Regions from separate parts of the Homo sapiens genome. Here regions 1, 2 and 4 are each linked to region 3. Evidence: fine-mapped expression QTL. A gene starts in region 3. Each other region holds a variant in brackets. All regions are shown on one strand. Distances are between the middles of the regions.

Evidence for each region. PIP is the estimated chance that this variant, and not a neighbour inherited with it, causes the effect.
Region 1: its variant is the best candidate, but not a certain one, in a credible set for the expression of LPAR3 in ileum (GTEx, PIP 0.79).
Region 2: its variant is the best candidate, but not a certain one, in a credible set for the expression of LPAR3 in prefrontal cortex (ROSMAP, PIP 0.58).
Region 4: its variant is the best candidate, but not a certain one, in a credible set for the expression of LPAR3 in whole blood (INTERVAL, PIP 0.52).

What each region holds. Positions count from the first base shown.
Region 1 is chr1:84,785,537-84,791,114 of GRCh38, forward strand. All of the region lies in intron 2 of LOC102724892 (a long non-coding RNA gene), which reads right to left. Among named protein-coding and RNA genes, the nearest start is that of SSX2IP, 98 kb to the left of the region's middle. The variant T/C (reference allele first, on the strand shown) is at 2,119.
Region 2 is chr1:84,755,791-84,761,368 of GRCh38, forward strand. No RefSeq gene overlaps it. Among named protein-coding and RNA genes, the nearest start is that of SSX2IP, 68 kb to the left of the region's middle. RefSeq lists an enhancer at 847-1,418. The variant A/G (reference allele first, on the strand shown) is at 2,479.
Region 3 is chr1:84,890,529-84,896,106 of GRCh38, forward strand. LPAR3 (lysophosphatidic acid receptor 3) reads right to left here and starts at 2,678. Exons shown (of 3, transcript NM_012152.3): 1 at 2,488-2,678.
Region 4 is chr1:84,858,844-84,864,421 of GRCh38, forward strand. The region is part of intron 2 of LPAR3 (lysophosphatidic acid receptor 3); the gene reads right to left. Among named protein-coding and RNA genes, the nearest start is that of LPAR3, 32 kb to the right of the region's middle. The variant C/T (reference allele first, on the strand shown) is at 2,520.

The sequences.
Region 1 (5,578 bases), 100 kb before region 3:
TTCCACTCAAAGAAACAAGCTTTATTTATCTCAAAACTTGGCTTCTGTTGACTTGCCAGATGAAAAATGATGTGAAGTTACTGAAATCATCTGCTAAGGGAAATGAATCCAAGCACGGTGAAAGATGTTTTGCTGCTTTTTCAAAGCACATCAGTCAGCTTGTCTTACAAGCACAATATAATTTTCTACCAGGTAAAGACAGTAATTATTTCAATTAGCAATTGAATTAGATGTAGAAGATAATGAGGAATAAAGATGCTGAACTAAGTTCAATAACTCACCACATATGCTTCTCTTTCTTGTTCTAGCTAAAGTAGCAGTAAACAGAGTGAATTCAGCTGTGGGATGATAGGGGCCTTTCCCCGCAAGTGGACTGAGTCTCAATTCATCATTCACTGCCTGATGAAGAGGCAGTATAGCAGACATGAGATGCCAACAGTACTCAGCCTATGCTCAGTCCAGCACCATCCTTGGTGCACAGTGACCCTTGTGGAAAATGGGAAATTATGAAGTTCTATGGTAATTAGTGAAACAATAACTTAAAGATATTTTCAGTTCCACTGCTGAAATAAAATAAGGAAATTCCAAGGATCTAGAGTATTTTTATTCAGCATCTTCTGAGACCATTCCTTTGATTTCACTCATGTGCGTTTCTGGAACGGGAAGAAGGAAAAGAGAAGGGGAGAGAGTGCAAGAGCCAGGGCTTCCTTATTCTGGGAAGACTTTGACCAAACTAGGCTAATACGGCAGAAAGAAACTGACACAGCTGATGGTCTTTTTGCACGTTTAGCACATCTGAAGTTTCTGTTTTGATTAGCGCCTCTCCATGTTATCTGAAAAGTCTATCACTAAGCAAAAACTGACAGTACTTCAAGGAGTAATTGACAAATTTGTGATCAGAGTGGGAGCTTTAACATGTCTTTCTTAGTAACTGATAGATCAAACAGCCAAAAAATTCAGTAAAGTTATAAAGATTTGAACAAGACGATTAACAAGTTTGATATAAAAGACTTATATAGAGCACTGCATTCAACCACTGGGGAATATACATTCTTTTTAAAATCACATATTACCTTTGTAAAAACTAATTGTGAATTAGGGCAGAAAGCAAATATCAAATCTCAACAAATTCAAAGAATAAGTATCAAAAGACCACAACACAATTAAGTTAGAAAAAAGTGAAAATTATAATTAAAAATCTTCATACAATTAGAAATTTAAAACACATCACATAAAAATCCATAGAGACAGAAAGCAGATTGGTGGTTGCCAGGGGCTGGGAGGAGAGGGGAATTACTGCTTAATGAATAGAGTGTTTTCTTTTGGGGTGATGAAAGTGTGTTGTTACTGGATAGAGGTGGTAGTTACATAACATTGTGAATGTACTAAATGCCACTAAAGTGTGAATTGTATACTTTCATACGGTTAGCTTTATGCTATGTAAATTTCACCTCAACAACAAAAAAAAAGTGCTCATATCTCTGTGTTTTAATTCTTTTTTTTTTTTTTTAGATGGAGTCTCGCTCTGTCACCCAGGCTGGAGTGCAGTGGCACGATCTCGGCTCACTGAAACCTCCGCCTCCTGGGTTCAAGTGATTCTCCTGCCTCAGCCTCCCGAGTAGCTGGGATTACAGGTGTACACCACCACATCTGGCTAATTTTTGTATTTTTAGTAGGGACGGGGTTCACCATGTTGGCCAGGCTGGTCTCAAACTCCTGACTTCATGATCCACCTGCCTCGACCTCCCAAAGTGCTGGGATTACAGGCATGAGCCACCATGCCTGACCTCTGTGTTTAAATTCTAATGTGTGGATACACAGGTGTGTATAGTTTATGAAAGTTTTTCAAACCATTCACTTATAACACGTACACTTTCTGTATTAAATGTGTATATTTACATTTTCTATATTATGCTTCAAATAAAGAGTTTTAAAATGAAAAGAAAACATATTACTTAACTCATGGGTCAAAAAGAAATTGTGCAGGAAAATATAAAAAGCTAAGAACTGTATGACAACTACACTAAAAATGTGCAGTTTGCAGTGCATTTATTCAGACCAAGGGATGCAGGTGAGAAATCAGCTGTGGGAGAGGACGGCAATGGGTTCTCTTAAGTA[T/C]GTATGAATACGAATTTATAGGTTTGAATGTTTATTTGGGAAAAAATGCCACTTTAAACATAAAATTAATAAGCTAAGCATCAAACATAAGAAGGTAGAAAGAAAACAAAATTCCCAAAGAAAATAAAAAGAAGGAAATGACAACCTTAAATTAGATAATAGATACAATAAGTACAATCAACGAAGCCAAAAATTAACACTTTGAAGAGACTAACTTCTGGAAAGACTGTATAAGGAAACTAAAAAAATATATAAAGAGATAAGGCACAAATAATATTAGCAGAGAAAGTAGAATACAAACGGTCAAAAAGATAATAAAAATATAAAATGAAAAACCTTATCCAATAAGTCTGGAAATGTTCATTAAATGGACAAATTCCTAGAAAAATATAATTTGCCAAAACTGACCAAAAAAGAAATAGAAAGCCTGTATAACCAGCAGTAAAAATCTTCCCACAAAATAAATCCTAGGCTTAGAGAGTTTTATTTGTGAGTTTTACAAGGCGTTTCAATTACAGCTGAAGATTTACCAGTATGTTAAAGAAGCAGGATTCATGGGATATAATCCAGAAAGTTATTAGTTTTGTCTCCTATGGCCCCTTTAAATCTTCTCAGTGAAGGCAATCCTTCCCCTGCCATTGGATGAAAACTCAGGCAAGCCCTATATAAAATAACTATAAAATATTCACTTTTATAGTTGTTCTTGAGTAATAGAAATACCTTTATTCACTTTCAGACACAAACCCAGACTCAAATTAGTAACTTGACATAAAAAGCCAGGCTTTTTTTTTTTTTAATTATGCTTTCAGTTCTGGGATACATGTGCAGAATGTATAGGTTTGTTACATAGGTATACATGTGCCATGGTGGTTTGCTGCACCCATCAACCTGTTGTCTACATTAGGTATTTCTCCTAATGCTATCCCTCCCCTAATCCCCCATCCCCAACAGGCCCCAGTGTGTGATGTTCCCCTTCCTGTGTCCATGTGTTCTCATTGTTCAACTCCTGAAAACCCAGGCTTTCAATTTAAAAGTTAAGACTTCTCTTCACTCTACCTTCTTTTCCCCCAGCTAAGGGCTATGGCAGGGAGGCCACCTGTTTGGGGGAAAGACATAAAATCCAATCTCTTCCTTTTTTCTGTCTCACCTTGTCAATCACCCTCCCCTATACTAGTCAGGGGACAGAAAACACACCAGTTATTTGAGAAATAATTTAATATAAAGAATTATTAACTAGATATAAAGCTACTAACCAGGTAACAGAAGAGAGAAGAGAATGCTAAGGCGTCATAAGCAATCATTTGAGGAAATGGCTATCATTCCCAGGGCTGAAGAAATAAAAGGAAGAGATTGGAATTCTTGAAATCTAAAAGCTGAGACAAAGGATCCTGGTGAGCTGAAACCCTGACCCTGAGGAGGGGGAGATGATTGACTGATGGTGGTGTCTCAGCTCAGAAGAGCAGCCGGGGGAGGCTGGGGCCCGGACTCTGAACAGGGGGCACTGGTCAGCACATAGTCATGTCTCAGGTTAAAGGGGTGAATGTGACAAGTCTGGTCCTGCAAGTTTGGTAGAAATAGCGAACTGGATCAGCTGCTGCTATGGAAGGAACTACCACCAATGCAGTGAAGGTGCAGTGCTGGAGTGATACTCACAAGAACTGTGAGCAGAAAGGAAGTCCAAAGCAAGCAACTGGGAGGAGCACATTCCTTCTGCTCCTCCAGCCTTTGAGTTTCCCTCTAGCACCCCAATTGGCAGAGCCCAACAGGGAATAGCTGGCAAAGCAGAAAAATGATTTCCAGGGTTCCTGTCCAAGCACCAAAAAGCAGGGAATAAAAGGGTGGAATGAGCTGAAAGACAATTAATAACTCATACATCCCCCATCCATTTACTGCTGTTTCTGATCCTCTTCAGGTCTGGGAGATGGGGAAGGAAGACAGGCAGAAAGTCCTTACTTAACTGGTATCAGCAAGGTATTTGAAGCTGATTCTTTCTCTTATGGAATGCTTTCATGTGTACTTTGGAGAACCTATTTTCTTACCCTATCACTGCTGATTTCCTTTGATCTGAATGAATGCACAGTGTTCTGGAAGTTGCTCACTTACTACCCCTTACTGCCAAGGAAAGCAGTATCCACCTCTAGCTCATGCTGTAATGAAACCTGTTCACCTCTCCAATTGACCTGACTCTGAGTTCATCTATGATGACCCAATTCCCAGCTCTTTTGTGTATACCTAGCCAAGGAAACCATCGTACTGCTTTGTCCAGGCAAACTGGGGGATTACGAGCTGATTCAAGCCCAGCAGCATCTTTCATTCAATCCACCACCAAACCACTTAGCCTATCCTTTTCTTGCCTTCTGTGTTCTAGATGGGAGCTGGACACAAGTCTGCTGACCTGCCTAGGTGGAGAGGACGCATATGGAGCTTTCCACAGGGAAAACTTGAATCCCTTCTCAGTTGGCTCAGTTCATACTAGCAATGTTTTCCAAAGAAATCCTCTTCAAATCTCCATTAAACTCCCCTTTCTAGTCATTTATTTGCTTGAGAGGGCAAGGAGTTGTTAGTGTGAAGGAATGATTCCTGGATATTTCCTTTGGAAAGGCAATCTTGGTCTAACATTTCACTTTGAAAGTTTATATTTTTTGAATCTTGGTGCTTCAATTGAAACTTAATTTAACATCCTTTTTCACCATTCTTAAATTCTTCCTTTTCATCCTGAGATCAGTATAACATTGATCCTAAAATCAAATTAAATAGTACTAGAAAGGAAAATTATTGGCCAATCTTATTCACATGCAAATTCGCCAAAATTCTAAGCAAACTATTATCGACCAAATCCAGCAGGGTATGAAAAAAAGTCCATCACACTAAGTTGGGTTTATCCCAGGAATGCAAAGCTGGGTTAACATTATAAAATTAATTAACGCAATTCCTTATATTAACAGATTAGAGAAAGAAGACAATTTTATCATTTCTTTTCCTTTTCCTTTTTTTTTGAGATAGACTCTCACTCTGTTACCCAGGCTGGAGTGCAGTCGGATGATCTCTGCTCACTGCAACCTCTGCGTCCTGGGCTCAAGCGATTCTCCTGCCTCAGCCTCCTGAGTAGCTGGGATTACAGAGGCGCACCATCACAACAAGCTAATTTTTGTATTTTTAGTAGAGACAGGGTTTCACCATGTTGGCCAGGCTGGTCTCAAATTCCTGACCTCAGGTGATCTGCCAGCCTCAGCCTCCCAAAATGCTGGGATTACAGGCGTGAACCACCGCACCCAGCTGACAATTTTATAACTTTAATATACGGCAAAAAGCATTTGAGAAAAAGCAACCTAATTTGTGGTAGAAACACTGAAAATTATAATTAAGAAGGTAACTCGTTTAACAGGATAAAGGTCAAAAACAAAAATTTATGGCAGATAATATTCTTAATAATAAAACTTACAACTATTTCCTTTAAAAT
Region 2 (5,578 bases), 130 kb before region 3:
CACAGTAGCTTCACAATGAAATTATTTTGCCATTTGCTTCTAAGTAGAATTGTAATGTTGGCTTCTAGGTGCACCTCCCACTTCCTCCTTCATTTTTACCTATAATTTCTTTAGCATCGATTGAGAAAGTGTTTATTCAGGGCATAACCCTGTGATAGGTACTGTGAGCGATATGAAAAAAGCCATGGGGCCAACTCTTTTAAAAAGGTGTTAATTGGATTTTTCCCATATAAAACCCCCCATAGCATTTTATTTCCTAACTCTGCTTCTCACCGTCAACTTCATTTGCCTATTTAATGCAATTTGCTTCTCATGATAAGATTCTATTAAGTGATTATTAAGACATTCTGAGTTACCTCAGCCAAGTACATCTATAATCATTACCTACCTCCTGGGGGTGATTTGAGGTGTAATTAGTTAAAGCTCACTGTTACCTCCCAACATCTGAACGACAAACAGAGACCACTTCTACACAGCCAGTCTGTGAGCCTGGTGCAGCCTGTTCACATTTACATAAATCCCATAGATCCAGGTTTCACGAGAGCCCATGTTGGGTCTGTAGAAATAGAGAGCATACTGAAAATTGCCTACCTCTATTTATATCAAATTGTACCCCTGAGGGTTAATTTCTTTTGGTTTCTAAGTGATATTATTTAATAGCCCTAACGTTAGTGTTAATAAAACAAACACAATAAACCTCCACTAAAAATTGAGATATGCTGGAACAAATCAGCCTAGCACGACCCTCAAACCTCTTATTCTTTCAGTCCTTCAGAACCATTTATTGAACTTCTACTGTATGTGAAGCATTGGACTAGGCTCTAAGGCTGTGAAATTCAGAAAGAAAGTCACTTGTCCTCAAGGAATTTATAGTCAGCAAATTTCACAGATGGTGATAATGACTTTTAGAAAACTTTCACATTTACTCAAAAGCCTATCTAGTATTGAGGGGGTGAGGGGGGGTGAGAGAGAGGGTGAGAGGGGGGGAGGGGGGAGAGAGAGAGAAGGGGAGAGAGAGAAGAGAGCGAGCAGGAGGCTCCAAGTGGTTTAAATACTTTATTGATGAAAGTTCTCAAGTCAAATACCAAAGGCCCCAGGGCTCCTGGGATCTTTTCTCATGGAGAGCTACTTTTAGCCCATGGAAGATTAGAGACATTTAATTAGGAGGAGGAGGTGAACTGTTTCAGTAGGCACACAGACAAGAAGAAGGAGAGACATGGATAGCATCCTTGTAATAAGTAATCAGGTAGAAAAACTGAAAGAAAAAAAGAAACAAGAATTCATGGAGCATTGCAGTGTGGAGATATTTAGTATAAAGGCAAATAGCTTTGTAAACCCCAATGGTCTTGAGGGTTTCAATTTGCATTACAGCACAGTACAATAATTTATTTTCATAATGACTGGAACACACGAAGGCAACTTTAGAACATGGCTACTAGGCAGTAGAATAGGGAATAGAGAATGATTTCCATCAAAAACTATTTCTAGAAATTTAAATCAGTCTTAAAATGATTTAAATCAGTTCTTAAAGTAATGCTTCAGTTATAAGATACAGTAGGCAAATTCTAATTCAATATAAAAAAGTGCTTTCTAGCCATTTTAGCCTCCTTTAAAGCGGATTTATTGACCTTGGGAGGTGGTGAGCTTTCTGTGGCTTAGAGGAACGTAAGCTAAGTGCAGACAGCCACCTATGAGAACGCTGCAGAGGGACTTTGAAAGTCCACCTGCTGGTCAAATCCAGACTGCCGCAAATTTTGTACAGCCTGAGAGCTAAGAATAGTCTTTACATTTTAAACTGAAATTGTAAAATTAAAAAAAGCCTTTTAGTGAGAATAGTTGTTCAATTTTGCCTCCACCCACAAAGCCTAAAATGCCAACTATCTGCTCCTTTACAGAAAAACTTTGCCAACCCCTACTCTAAGGAGTTGCTCTTTCCCAACTCTGAGGCTCCGGGAGCTGAAGCACACCTCATTTTCTCATGAAGGCTCAATGAAAATGACTCGATATTAAAACTGCTTTACTCTGGCCAGGGTAGAGCATCCTTTTAGATACTGACAGTCTCTGGAAATCGGCCTTGATCTAGTGTTAGGTAACGCTTGCTGGGATATACAAATATCAGATTTCGTACTTCTCAGTCTTACAAATTAAATTTTATACTTTCAGATTTTATTCACTGGCTAGGGAGAAAGACAACTCCATGCGCTTCACTGAGTAAATAGCAGAAACAGGGCGTATTTCAAAGCCACCCAGACCTCCCCTTATGTCAATGCCACAAACAAGGCCCAGTGAGCTCTGGGCCATTCTTAGGGGTTCCACCAGGGAAGATGGTAGAGGTGAGGTCATCGTCTCTTGATGGTAGATGCACAGGCCAGGGACCATTATATTATTTTTACCCTAAAAGAGAAATGCCCTTAGGAAACAAAAGTGTTCATAGTTTTCTCAAATTTTTTCTCCTATGTTTTTCCCTCTAAGTCTGGG[A/G]GTAAAAAACTCTTAGCTTAGAGAAATGCCATCTCCACCTATTCTGCCTTTGCTGAGAGATTAGCAACCCTTGAAAGGCTTTGGTCTCCAGGCATGCCGGGGGCAGGAAGAAAATGTCTGGTCTTGTGACTCTCCCAGGTGTGAAGTGATGGTTTCAGTAATGTCAGTGTGATTCCTGGGTCTTAGAAAGAAAAATAAAGCAGAAGAAAACCCTGGCATAACCCAGTGAATGGTAGCTTAATGTCATAAATTCCATGGCTCAAGTCAGAACAACAGTCTTTGGAGGATTTCATTCTCTCCAAGGACAAATACGTGTTTCCAGTTGGTTTTATAAATGTGTATCTATGTGTGTTTGCATCTTTCCTGTGGCAGAGTGCCTAGACACGGGCAAGTCATCTGTGGATAACAGCATGCAGCATGTGACATGAAAAATCACACATTGTATGTTTAATTGCTTCAAGGCATTACACACACACACACACACACACACACACACCCCAGCTTAGTGCTGTGTGACTTCTGCCACTGCCTCCTACCCTATTTGTCAGATTACAGGGACACAGAGCAAAGTTTACTGCACACAAAAAAGCCAAACTAATGCTACGAGCCATGCATGGATTCTCCCTGTCTTCCATTTAGAAATCCCCGAGTAAAAAAGGATTATGGTCCTATCACATTTTACTAAACATTCATTCTGTGACCCAAATAGCTCCTGAAGACACAGTTATCACCCACTGTGGGTGCTTTCTTTGTGACTATTTTCAAAGGCATCTGCGGGATAGGCTAGAAATATCAAAATATCATTTGGAGATAAACTGTGGTCAGGACCTATAAATAGCTGCTTCCCTTTAGTGTCTCCGCCCCCCTGTTCCCTGGTCCCCCCTTCGCTCCATACTGCTGCCCTTCACCTTCTTTTTTTCTCACACACAGGATCACATGCTCCTCCCGGGGAATGGACTTGGACCACGTGCATAAGAAATGGCAATCTGGACGGGCACATTTCCTCTGTCACAGAACTGTGTCTTGTATCCCAGCATCCTCCCCACCTCCTTCCCGTGGCCCTGTTTCACAATTAGAATGCAGCTCGGAGTGGAAAGAACTGGCACCCAGCAGATGGCTGCAGGCAGTACCTTCACGCAGCCCCGACGCCCACTCCTCGGCAGCAAGAACTGGGGAGCGCCATATGTCAGAGCTGCCGCCGATGCCAGCAGAAGGGAGGCTTTGTTCTTTTGATGGGTTTGTTTTGAAAGGGGAACATAAATAATACACACCCACCTCTCCTTCCCCAGCAATCTGGGCAGAGCTTGCCGGCAGTCCTTGTGGCTCAAAGTGCCCCAATTGTTCCCTGAACATGGCTGAGTATGAGGGCTGGTCTTGGCCACCAGATGGATTAAGTCTGATTAATTTTCAACCGTAAATAATGCTTTTCTCATATTTAATCAGTGAATACTTAATCAGCTTTTCCCTGGGAAAAAAAAATCATGTTTCCCTAAAAAATTAAGATATTTGTTTTCACACAATCCAAAAAGCTTCTTGCAAAGTCTATTGGAGCGATGGATGGCCCACCCCCTTGACTAATGTGTGTGTGTGCAGGCGTGGAGGGGAAGGCTGAGGCCGGAGTGTGTGCAGAAGGGAGAGGAGCGGGGTCAGAATGACCTCGTGGCTCTTGAGGAAAACAGTCCAGTGAAGGAGCGTCCAGGTCTGTCCTGCCACCAGCTGGCCAGGTTTGTTTCTCCTCCAGAAATCCTGCATGTTCTCAAAGTCACTCACTTCAAGCTGTGAAGAGCGTCCCTAAGCCCCGAGAAGGCAGCACAACCTTGCTCACCACTTATTCAGGCCGGGCAGTGCTGGGCACATCATAAATCCTCAGTAATTTCGGTTGGATAAGTGAATTGTGGTTAAATGAATGACTGCTTCTTGGGTTAAATTCTTGATAGCTTAAAATGTGTTTTGGGAACACATGGTTGTGTGTGTGTGTGTGTGTGTGTGTTTGAGTGTATATAAGTATACAAAAAGGAGCTAAAATAATCCATCTATAGAATGTACAGCACCAAGAGTGAACTGCAATGTAGACTATAGACTCTGGGTGATAATGATGTCTCAGTGTAGGTTCACTGATTGTAACACATGCACCCTTCTGAGGAGGAGGTTGATAATGGGGAAGCTGTGCATGCATCGTGCAGGAGGTATTTGGGAATTTTCTATACCTTCTGCTTTAATTTTGCTGTGAACCTAAAACTGCTCTAAAAAACAAGTTATATTAATTTAATAAAATAATCTATTCAAGGTATTAATCATGTTTAATATTATTTATTGCTAGTCTCTATTTTCTGTTTTTCATGTATTGTTTTTATTATTAGAAAAAAATTAGCTTTATTTGGAAAAGGAAGCAAACATGTAACATTTGTCTTACGAGTCTCAGGGCTGAAGAGTATGCTGGTAAGAAGGAAAAATAAACCAAAGCAATATCAATCATCATCATCACAGTAGTTGCAATTTATAAAGAAACTAGAGTGGATGCCCTGTGGAAGACACTGTTTTATTTTACATGCATGAACTCATGTAATCCTTATGACCGCACTATGAAATAGTAACTGTTATTAACGCTTTCCACAGAAAGAAAATCCATTAATGCAAACAATTTATGTTTTTAAACAGTGTGCATAGTGCAAAAATAAATGAATAAACACAAAATACAATTTTGCAACACTAGCATGTAACTGACAACCAGGCTCTGAGGTACTAGCAGCATCAGGAAGTCCACCTGAGGGACAACACCTGCCTTGTTGGTTTTGAGAGGAATAAATAACATATAGAAGTTTCAGGCACTGTCCCTGGCTTTGAGCTGGGACTTAATGAATGGTGGCTGTTTCCTAAAACCAGTGGTCCAGTCTTTCCCACAGTTTCTCTGGGATTTTTTAGGGGATGAATTGGTAACATCTTAGGCTTCAACTGCAGCATCTGGAAATACCAACAACAACAATAACAACAACAATAAAATGACCACTTTTGAGACTTAAGTGTGGGTCAACCCTGTGGTAGGTTTTATAGCTGTTACCTCAGTCATTTCTGTCTACTAACTGTGCTGGTCCAGTAGCAA
Region 3 (5,578 bases):
TGTGCCCAAGGTCACAAAGCTTGGACTGGAACAAAAGCTGGTCTGACTGCAAAGCCTTGGTCTTCCATTTATACTGCATTAATAATGCCTTGGGCCTGGTCTCTGCCATCTAGAATCCTGCAAACAGACTTAACCACTCTGTTGGGTATAATCACAGGCCAGAAAGCATTTGAACTAATGTATACTCCAAGGAGAATGGCTAATGGGTAATCTGAGGTACAGTAATTCCCATTTCAGTTATAGTGATTCCCCTTGCCCCAGCCCAAAGAAATAAGAGGCGGGTCTTAAGTTATCACGCACTGCTGCTCCTCAGCAGCAGGCTGAGAAACTTGGGGGAGAAGCAGCCAGCCTTAGGCATGTGTGTATAAGTGATGTTGAGAGTGTGTGTCTGGGTGCTGCCTGGCTACAATGCTGTGTGTGCATTTCTTCCACTGTGCACGTGTGTTTCTGAAAAATGAGATGGAGAGTTAACATGCTGTAGTTTCTTAAACAGATTCCGGTGAACACACATGAAAAACAATCTCATACTTTAATGTTTTAAATTCAGTCTCCATTCATAGAAAACATATGCAGGCCTGTTCTAACAAATATCTTGCAGAACAGCAAGATATCTAAAATAGGTCTGATCTGATAAAAAAAAAAAGAGTGGTAGTTGATAAATGCAATTGAAAGGTTTAGACAAGAGGAGTGTCATATGTAATTAAATCAAAACCTCAAAGTTTCAAATTCTAAAGACAAAGAAAAAATTTTTGCCAAAATGACCTATTTTCTTAGTTATATGATAGTGACAATCAATGTAAGTGTTGTCCAAATAGTTAGACGTCCAGATCTCCACAGGATAACTAGTTCCTTGCTGTCTCAAGGCACAAGAGACAACTCTGGAAGCTTATCTCAAGTACACAACTCTGACTGGCAGGGTTTGCTCGCTCGTCTTTTTAGTATAGTCCAGTTTGTTTAGACAAGCCTGGGGTTAACAGAGCCAAGGTGTGTGTTTCTAACCGTATCACTTCTGTCCCAAAAAGAGGAAAACTCTGTTTACTGGACTCAGGCCACTAAATATCAGATCCACTGCCCATGGAAAGCAGGGTTAGCAACTGTTGATGGATCAATGGAAAATCCAGCAACTCTTCTCAGCGATACAAAAGTCCATGCATTAATGAAACGTTGTGCGGTACATGGAATTTGTAAAGAGGAGATTGATTGTCTGTCTGTAATTGACATTTACTTTATTCTCTGATACAGACTAAGTTGGAACCGTGAGAAAGCCCTTTATTTCTAAACGGCATCTCAAGACCAGGTAATGCTACTTTCGGAGGAAAAGGAGGAAGAAAAGCGTTGTAATGACAATAACAAATTACGGGGGAAACATTTCGTGGAAATTACTCAGTTTAAAAAACTGACCTAGCCGGGCGCAGTGGCTCACACCTGTAATCCCAGCACTTTGGGATGCTGAGGAGGGTGGATCACGAGGTCAAGCGTTCGAGATCAGCCTGGCCAACACAGTGGAACCCCGTCTCTACTAAAAATACAAAAAATTAGCCTAGCGTGGTGGTGGGCGCCTGCAATCCCAGCTACTAGGGAGGCTGAGGCAGGAGAATCGCTCGAACCTGGGAGGCGGAGGTTGCAGTGAGCCGAGATCGCGCCACTGCACTCCAGCCCGGATGATAGTGCGAGACTGTGTCTCAAAAATAAATAAATAAATAAATAAATAAATAAATAAATAAATAAATAAAAACTAACCTACAAATGCTTTTCAGGGCCATTTTAATGATTACCTTAATAAGACTAAATTGTTTCCAATATTCACAGTCACTCCTCAAATTACATGCGTGCGGAATTTCTAAGCAATTTTGTGTAGCTGCAACTTGTTGAGGGAAAGCAATAAAGTAACTCTGCTACAGAACAAAAGCACTTTTGTCTCGTGGTGGTGAGGGGGCATACCCTGAACAAACAACCCCGACAGTGTTGCTAGTTACTAGTTCCCGAATCTCTAGAAGCCTGCACATGGTTCAAGCTGTTCCCCAGCGGACACAGCACAGTACCAGATGTAACTGGAGGCTGAAAAATGTTATATCCCTAGGCTTCACGAGAGAACCCCAGTTTCCTAATCACCATCGATGGCAATGAGACTGAGTTTGGAAAGAACCACGTGTGCAAAGGCAGACGCAACCCGTGCGGCGCTCTCCTGGCCTCTGCGCCCAGCCCGCCAGCCCTCAGCAGCGGACGCAACGCCGATTTTGCATCTAGATTGCTTTTTGCTCCTAGCGGGGAAAAAGGTGGGAAAAGAGCAAGTTGTGCCATACACCCGCCGGGAGAGTCTTGTCCCGGGGTTTGGAGTGGGTCTGGAGCCCAGGCTTGCACGCCAGGCAACCCCGAAAAGCCGCAGGCTAGAGCCCTGCAGGCGCCGCTGCGCCCCGGCCTCCCCACGACGCACGCCCTGGTGACTGCGGCTCGGGGTACCCTCCCTGCGCCCGGACCCTCACTCACCGCTCACGTTCACCCGCGCCGCCGAGCCCGGGAGCGGGGGCCCCTGCGGCTGCCGCATGCCCTCGGGGTCGAGCGCGACGGGGCGACCGGGCGCCGGGCTCCAGCCGGGCGCGGAGAAGCAGCGGAGGACGCGGCGGGCGGGCGGAGCGCCTCCTCTCCAGCGACCCCTGCGACGCGTCCAGAGCCAAAGGAAAGTTTGGCGGTGCGAGGGAGGGACCTAGGGACAGCGGCCCCTCCCTGCCCCGCCCCGCCCCGCCGGGTGCGTTCGACGTTCCCACTGGAGAGCGTCCCCAACCTGCAAGGCCGCGAGCTGCGCTCAAAGGGGCCCGTGCGAGCCGCGGGAGGGCAGCGCTCTTGCAGACGCGTTCCTGCCTGGGATCGTCCCCAGGTGGGTGGTCGGCCGGCCCCGAGAGGGAAAAGCGCCCACTAAAGGACCGCTAGTACCCACAAGCCTCACGGAGCCATACCTCGGAGCTCCGTATTAGAACGCAGTCCCTCTGCCCCTCTGTCCTCAGAGATTTGTTTGAAGTGGCTGCGGGAAGTGCAGCCCACACCCACCACCCCCGTGGGAGGCAGGCTCTACTCCAAGCCCGACCTAACGCTGGAAACCTCAACCCCAAAGCTACCCGAGGGTGCGGACAGCCCCCAGAGGCAACCAACAATATTTAAGGTTCTTGTAAGAGGTTTCTTGGCCTCCTGGGGCAAATAGTCCTGGATACTTTGTTTTTCAAAGCTGAAATATAAAACCTCCACTGACCCACCTTTAGTAAAGAAGAAAGATGCAAAGTAAAACAAATGTCATGAAGGCATTGTTCTCTCTGAATTCTGCAAAGCAATAACGAAGTCACAGAAATGTTCAAAGTTGTGCTTTCCTGGTGACCTTACAAAAAGGAAATACTGTGAGGTGAAGTCCTTCCCACTCAGACTTCAGGCCCTTAGGAAGCAATGAGAGTTGTGTGCCCAGATGTCTTCCTGTGACCCTTTGCCATCCATCCATCCGTTCATTCATTCATCTTGCATTCACCATTAATACTGCGCCCTTCTGTGTGCCAGCTAGGAACCTCATCCTTGCAAACAACCTGTTAGATAATCTGTCCCCTACCATCAAAGAGATTCTGTTTTCTCTGCAGAGGATGTTTTAATAAGGTTACGTCCCTTACTCCGTGGGTCTTATCCTATAGACCATAATAGCCTAATGTGCCTCAAACCTCCCCGGGGCTACAGCTAAGTTTTCATCAGCATGTGAAAATTATTGTTTCATCTAAGTGTTCAGAAAATTATTGCGGTGTCTTGCAGTTGAACTGTGTAGAGAGAAGTACAACTTGCGAAGCTAGGGCTAAAGAAAGATCATGTGTTTACTTTTACAAGCAGAAGCTTTGCATATGATAAAAAAGCTCGGTGGCAAACATGGTGAAAACCCGTCTCTACTAAAAATACAAAAAGCCGGGCGTGGTGGCACGCACCTGTAATCCCAGCTACTCTGGAGGCTGAGGCAGGAGAATCGTTTGAACCTGGGAGGCGGAGGTTGCAGTGAGCCGAGATCGCGCCACTGCACTCCAGCCTGGGCGACAGAGCAAGACTCCGTCTCGGAGGGGCGGGGGTCGGAAAGAGCTCTCTCTGTCAAGGGAGAGAACAGCTCAGCTCAAACATCACGGTGCTGAAGGGCAACCTGGTAAACACAGAAATACTCAACCACCAGCATTTACTGAATACTTGACGCAACAAAGGTGTAGTATGTTGAGTAAGATGTTGCAGGCTAGACTGTAAACACCACTAAGAGCCTTCTTTTGCTGGGAAAATCTGTTCTGAATCCAAACAACTTACTAACAAAGGCACTTGGGAAACACATTATGTTGCATTATGTTGTACCTTGGGAACTTCCTGAACTCGAGGTAATTGCAAAGCAGAACAGGGATCCCACAGAGTTGAATCTGAATCCTTAAAAAAGGAGGAAAGTGAAGAGGGCATGGGGAGCTGTGTTGCAAAAGGAAAGAGACTTTCCAGATAGATGGTTTTTAACAGCTAGATGGGTCAGATGTGAGGGGAAGGCCAGAAGGTGTTACAGAGAAACAGATTCAGAGAGGAAAAGCAGTGATAAACAAACAAACAAACAAACACCTATGGGGAGAAGCAGGAAAAGAAAAGACGAGGCAAACGACAACTAAAAAGAAAGATGTGGCCCCCAATTCCTAGTTTTTAGAAGGTAGCCCAGGGATTATCCACCAGAACCTCCTACAAATCCTTGTTTGGCCTGTGGTGTCTCACTTCTCTACCGAAATGTTTTTATTAGCAAAGCCAAATTAAAATTAACATCAAAATGGCAAGGATGAAGGCTGAGGGTGTATTTTGTCTTAGAGATCACTGGCTGGAAAGTCATTCAAAACTTTCAACAAACATTTGCTAGTCAGCTTCATGTATACAAGTGTTGTGTTTTGTGTTCCTGGAAACACAAAGAGTTATAACGTTGTTTCTATAAGGAGGTAAAAGGGGCATTCCACAGTGCTTGATAGAATGAAATTGTGATGGCTGAAAGAACAATTGGGGGTGGATGTGGTGGCTCACGCCTGTAATCCCAGATATTTGGGAGGCCAAGGTTGGTGGACCACTTTAAGGCCAGGAGTTCAAGACTAGCCTGGCCAACATGGTAAAATCCCATCTCTACAAAAAATACAAAAAATTAGCCAGGCATGGTGGTGTGCACCTGTAATCCCAACTACTTAGAAGGCTGAGGCCAGAGAATCGCTTGAACCCAGAAGACAGAGGTTGCAGTGAGCTGAGATCACACCACTGCTCTCCAGCCTGGGTGACAGAGTGAGACTCTGTCTCAAAAAACAAAGTAAGTTTAAAAAACACAAAACTGCCTGCCTCCTTCCACAGTGAGAAGCAATGTGGGACTCAGGCAAGGCTTCCTCCTCTCTGGATTTATGGAAAGAGGCCATGTTCCTCTGTCCCCAGCTCACCTTGGGGCTTCAATCATATGGGCAGGAATTCACAGATGTGTTGTTCTTAACTTTGGGAAGTATCTGAACTGAATCTCTGCTGAATTTTGCTCATCTATACTAATTAGCAATGAGGATGCCTACAGCAGGTG
Region 4 (5,578 bases), 32 kb before region 3:
GGACAAGACTGACAGGCAGCCCAAGGGAGGCAGTAATCAGATTTACTCCAGTAGGGCAAAGGAAGATTCAAAGAAGATAGACCTTTGAGTTAGGTCTTACAAGGTGAATGGGAGTTTCCCAGGCAGAACTAGGGGAAAGGTATCCCAACATCTGCAAAGGCTTAAAGAGACAAAATGGGGGAAGCGCAAATAATTCATTATAGCTTGAGTATAGGATACATCTAGGGGAGTTGCAGGAAAATCGGATAATAATACCTTAACTACTTGCTTGGCAGGATTTCCATGAGACCAAAGAGAACAGTGTATTAAAACTGAAAAAGACACAGTACTGCAGAAACATCATGTGTGATTATTATTAGTACTCTGGCAAGGCTCTTTATGGTACTTAATTTTCACCCATTTCCTCCTAGCATGAGAACTTGAGCTATCGTTTCGTTGCTTACTGCTACTTTGCCTTCTTCCTCTCTCCCCTAAGAGACAAAAGAGGATGATTTAGCATCAATCTAAGTGGAGAGGAGGGAGGAAGAAGTGAGAAGAAAAACAACCAGCTCCCTGTTTTAATTACCACAAGCCCTAAGTCCCTTAACAACGATAATGTTTCATATTTTAAAAGAGTTCAGTGCTTTCTGGCAGAAAAATAAACCTTGACCCTCAAGATCATGGTTTTTCAAACGTTCTTGACGATAACTCATGATAGGAAATACATTTTATATCACAACCCAGCACACACACAGGCACGCAAAGAAAGGTTATAAAACAATATTGATACCTGTTAAATGCAACACACTCTGACATTTTCTCTTCTTTTTATGTCATTTTAAAAAGTGTTGCTTACAATCTCATCAGTGCATCAAAACTTACAGTTTGAAAAACATCACTAAAGGACAGGAGGGTTCATGGAAGACTTCAAAAGAATGGTTTGCAAGTCCCTTCCCTCTTTCTTTTCTCTTGTATTTTAAGACACTGCAAAATAAAGCAAAGTCCAGCCCATTTTCTGGGAAATAACAAAACATTTCTGTGTGCACAGTTCACATGGTGTGTTGTTTGACAATAAATTAGACGTTTCCATGTGGGGTTTCTTGTGTGTTTGGTTGCTGTAGCTGATTAGGCTTGTTGACAAGTAAGATTTCAAAACCCTTTCTTAGGCAGGGCCTTGGTGCTCTTTGGAAAGCAGGATCGTATGTCTCCGATGTCTTTTCAATGAGAACATTCAATAAGCAACTTTTTTCACATAAAGGGCCCCATCACACATTCTAACCCAGAAGTGAGCAAGCATTTTGCCTCAGGGCTGCTGAAACGGGAACATGATGCCTTGATGCCTTTCCAATCATGCACACACAGATTGAAAACTCACATCACCATCATCACTACCACCACTACCCTCAAGGAAAGAGTCTGAATCCCCATGCTGTTAGCTTTTGTGTTCAACCAAAATCCCAAAGCTGGAAAGGAACACAAAGGTCATCTGGTCTACTCTCCTTCCAAAGAGGATAGCCAACTAAACTTTGCTGGTTCACAGGTGAGCTATTTTTCCACCGCACCACAGCAAGTATTTGTACTCTGTGGGGCCTTCCTCATGGTAATGCACAAGCTTTAAATGTTTCTATCATCACACTTCTGAGTATGCCATTTCTCCCTCTTAGAATGTGTCTTCCTCCAGCCCATGCAAATCCCACCTATCCTTCCAGATTACATCCCAGCCCATTAAGAAGCCGTCTCCACACTCAACAGCCCCTGTCCATCCTTTCCTCTTCTGAAATAAGATTAAGCTCACTGAATTCATGCAACCATGTACCTCTTAGATACTGTTTAATAGACAGTTAATATGTACTTAGAGACTGACTTTCTAATATGTAAAAGAAGAGGGTTCGTAAGAAACTTTAGGATTTAATTTTTTTTTTTTTTTTTTTTTTTTGATACGGAGTCTCACTGTCACCCAGGCTGGAGTGCGGGGGCGCCATCTTGGCTCACTGCAACCTCCACCTCCTGGGTTCAACCAATTCTCCTGCCTCAGCCTCCTGAGTAGCTGGAATTACAGGTGCCTACCATCAAACCCAGCTAATTTTTGTATTTTTAGTAGAGACGGGGTTTCACCATGTTGGCCAGGATGGTCTCAAACTCCTGACCTCAAGTGATCCGCCCGCCTCGGCCTCCCAGAGTGCTAGAATTATAGGCGTGAGCCACCACACCTGGATGGATTTAATCTTAAATGAATCTTTCCTACAAAATATGTATCAAGGAGTAAATGGAAATGTTTAGCATTTTATCATAAAGACATTTAAATCCTCCAATTATTAAAAACATGAGTATTAAGCTATTCATCTCCACATAATCAGAACCAGTGATTAGATGATGGTTAATGCCAGCACTGTTGATTTTTCTAATATACTATCATTTGGGAGATGCTTGTTTCAGGCAATTGAATTCTTACATGTAGTATGTAGGGAACTGGGGGCTTTCTCCCTAGGAAGATACTGTGGTAGGTGCTGCTGTCAAGGAAAGAGGCTCTGTGCTTGGAT[C/T]CACAGAAATGTTTGGTGCTGCCCCACAAGATTCATATTCTCTCTCTCAATCTCTCTCTCCCTCTCTCTCTCTCCACTCTTCCTTTTCATTCCCACCTTTGGTTACTAACTGTCATAAAGGATAATTGAACTTTGTAACTTGTAAAGAACTTAAAGATGGTCTATGCCACCTGATGAGGGAATCTAACCAAGAAAAGATGAGCTGATGTGCTGCAGATCACCCTTGTAGAAAATGAAAGAATTGGGGGTAAAACCCAAATCTTTCTGTTATCTAGAGAAATCAGGAGCTGGAAGTCTTCAGCCTTACACCACCTAGCTCTTGAGTTTCATTTCCCTCGTCCCTGAACTTCCTGTCTTCCACCAGGTTCCTCTGTCTTACCATTAAGGAACTTCTGAGGTCCTTGACACCAAACTGTCTTTCTTCCATTAACCAATTCCCCAATGTTGTCTTATCTCAATTGCATGACTTCTCTTATCCTACTTGGAAATTTAATTGTTCATTCTGGTTTTTCTCTTAGTCAATACCACACCTGCCAAAACCTCCCAGCTCCTTTCTTTTAACCCCTTCCGTAACTGTTGCAGACAAAATTACATACAAAACTGAAGTTTGTGACCATGACTGTCTCACAAAGGGTCCTGTTCTCTCCACCTAGGATTTTGGAATCCTTGTCTCTATCATGCTGTATACTATATTATAATATGATGAGAAAAGAAAGTTTTCTTTTTAAGCAGGCGGGTAATTTCTCAAGACACATAGCCAAGCAAATGATTATGCCTACAAGTTAAGCAGGGACAGCAGCACAGTTCATTGACACTATCTGTAAATACCAAAGTTCATTCTTTATCAAAAACATCAATATCTTCTCCAGCTCGAGGGGAAATGCCGATTAATGTGAACCCTCTTTTTCTTGTTCTTGTCCATTTTCTTATCAATGTGTCAACGGTGTCAAAGCAGAAGACAGGACAAAAAGATGAGCGTAAAAAGTCCAGATAAATCACAAGTAGCCACAGAGTATGGTGGTAAATATGTGAACTCTAGAGGCCAGCTGCGCAGTGAGTCTTGGTTAACAGCTGAGTGACTGGACACACTGCTTAAACTCTCAGTTTCTCCATCTGGTAAATGGGTATAATAGTAGCACCTATCTCACAGGGTTTCCATGAGAATTAAATAAGTTAATGTTTGTAAAAACACTTAGGACAATGCTTGGCACATATTAAGCACTATATAAATATTTGTTAAATAAATCCTCAGTTTGAAATTATTTTAACAATCACACTCTGTGTCTGCTGACCCCCAAATCTTACTAGCAGTTTCAGGACCTAGAGGCATTGTGAGGGTTTCTATACCACACCACACATACTGTATCCTCCACTATGAACTGCTACCTGATAATTCATTTTATAATTCCTTCTCATAAGGAGTAGACAGAAATGTACTCCTGAATCTCTCTCAGCAACAGTCCCCATTGCTGCAGCCACACACACAGTGAGAAACGGCCTCTCTGCCTTACAAGACAAGTTCTGTGAAACCACAAAAGTTCTTGTCTGCCCACACATTACAAATTCTACCTGTAACCCAGAATTAGAACTGGGGAGGTGGGGCAATAGGCCACCTACTTCAGAGAAAATAAAACAAAGGGAAAATTCTACGAAACCACATGTCTTCTTGGTACAGGGCTCACAACCTTTCTCTCCTCCCTTTTTTTTTTTTTGGTTTTGTTTTTGTTTCTTAAGACAGGCTCTTACTCTGTTGTTCAGGCTGGAGTGCCGTGGTGTGATCACAGCTCACTCAACCTCAACCTCCCGGGTTCAAGCGGTTCTCCCACCTCAGCCACCCAAGTAGCTGGGACTACAGGTATGCACCACCATGGCCAGCTAATTTTAGTATTTTTCATAGAGATGGGGTTTCACCATGTTGCCCAGGCTCTTCCTTTCTTTCTCAATTTTACTCCAATCAGGCTCTTGGCTATACCAAATGTGATGATCTCAAGATCAGCACAAGTCCACCACTTTGGTAAGGCCAGCAACACCTGGTCTTACACCACCTCTCAGGGGTACCAACACTGCTAATGCTTCCTCTCCTCGATTGCCTTCTTCTCTTTCTTCTAGTTCCCCAGAGTCTCCTGGGTTTTCCATCCCTTCTAGGGCTCCTTTGCTGGCTGCCCCTTACCTCCTGACCTCCTTACACTGGAGGGCCTGCCCTACGGCTCCATCCTTGGTCCTCCTCTCCTTCATATCCACATTCACGTTCATGGTGAGCTCACGCAGTCCTGTGATTTAAAATACCAGTTTCCCCCCAGGACTCTCAAATGTACATCTCCAGCCCAGACCTAAATCTTGAATTCCTGAGTCAAACATCCAACTGTCCACTCAATAAAATTGCCACACCCCTTGGATGTCTAATAGGTTCCTAAATTTAGCTTGTCCAAAACCAAATCTTCCCCCAAAACCTCCTCCTCTTCAGTCTTCCTCATCTTGGTTAATGACATTCCCCACCTTCTCCTCCACCTCTCATCTTCCCCTCTACCTTACCCATCAGTAAATCCTTTAAAAAATATCTGGAATCTGGCCAGGTGCAGTGGCTCACACCTGTAATCCCAGTACTGTGGGAGGCCGAGGCAGGCGGATGGCTTCAGCTCAGGAGTTCGAGAGTAGCCTGGGCAACATGGTGAAACCCTGTCTCTAAAAAAATTACAAAAATTAGCCGGGCCTGGTGGCACAGGCCTGTAATCCCAGCTACTTGGGAGGCTGAGGTAGAAGGATCACTTGAGGCCAGGAGGTGGAGGTTGCAGTGAGCTGAGATTGCACCACTGCACTATAGCCTAGATGACAGAGCCAGGTCCTGTCTCAAAAAAAAAAAAACAAAAAACAAAAAAACAGAATCTGACCATCACCTTCAACTACCATCTGGCCATGGTGATCTCTCCCGAGTACTGAAATACTCTATTAACCCATTTATGCCAGGGGTTGCAAATTTCTTTTGTGAAAAATCAGAACTTGTCAATGACCTTGAGCAGTAGGATATAAATAACTCCCACAAGCTTAGCATTCCAATAATG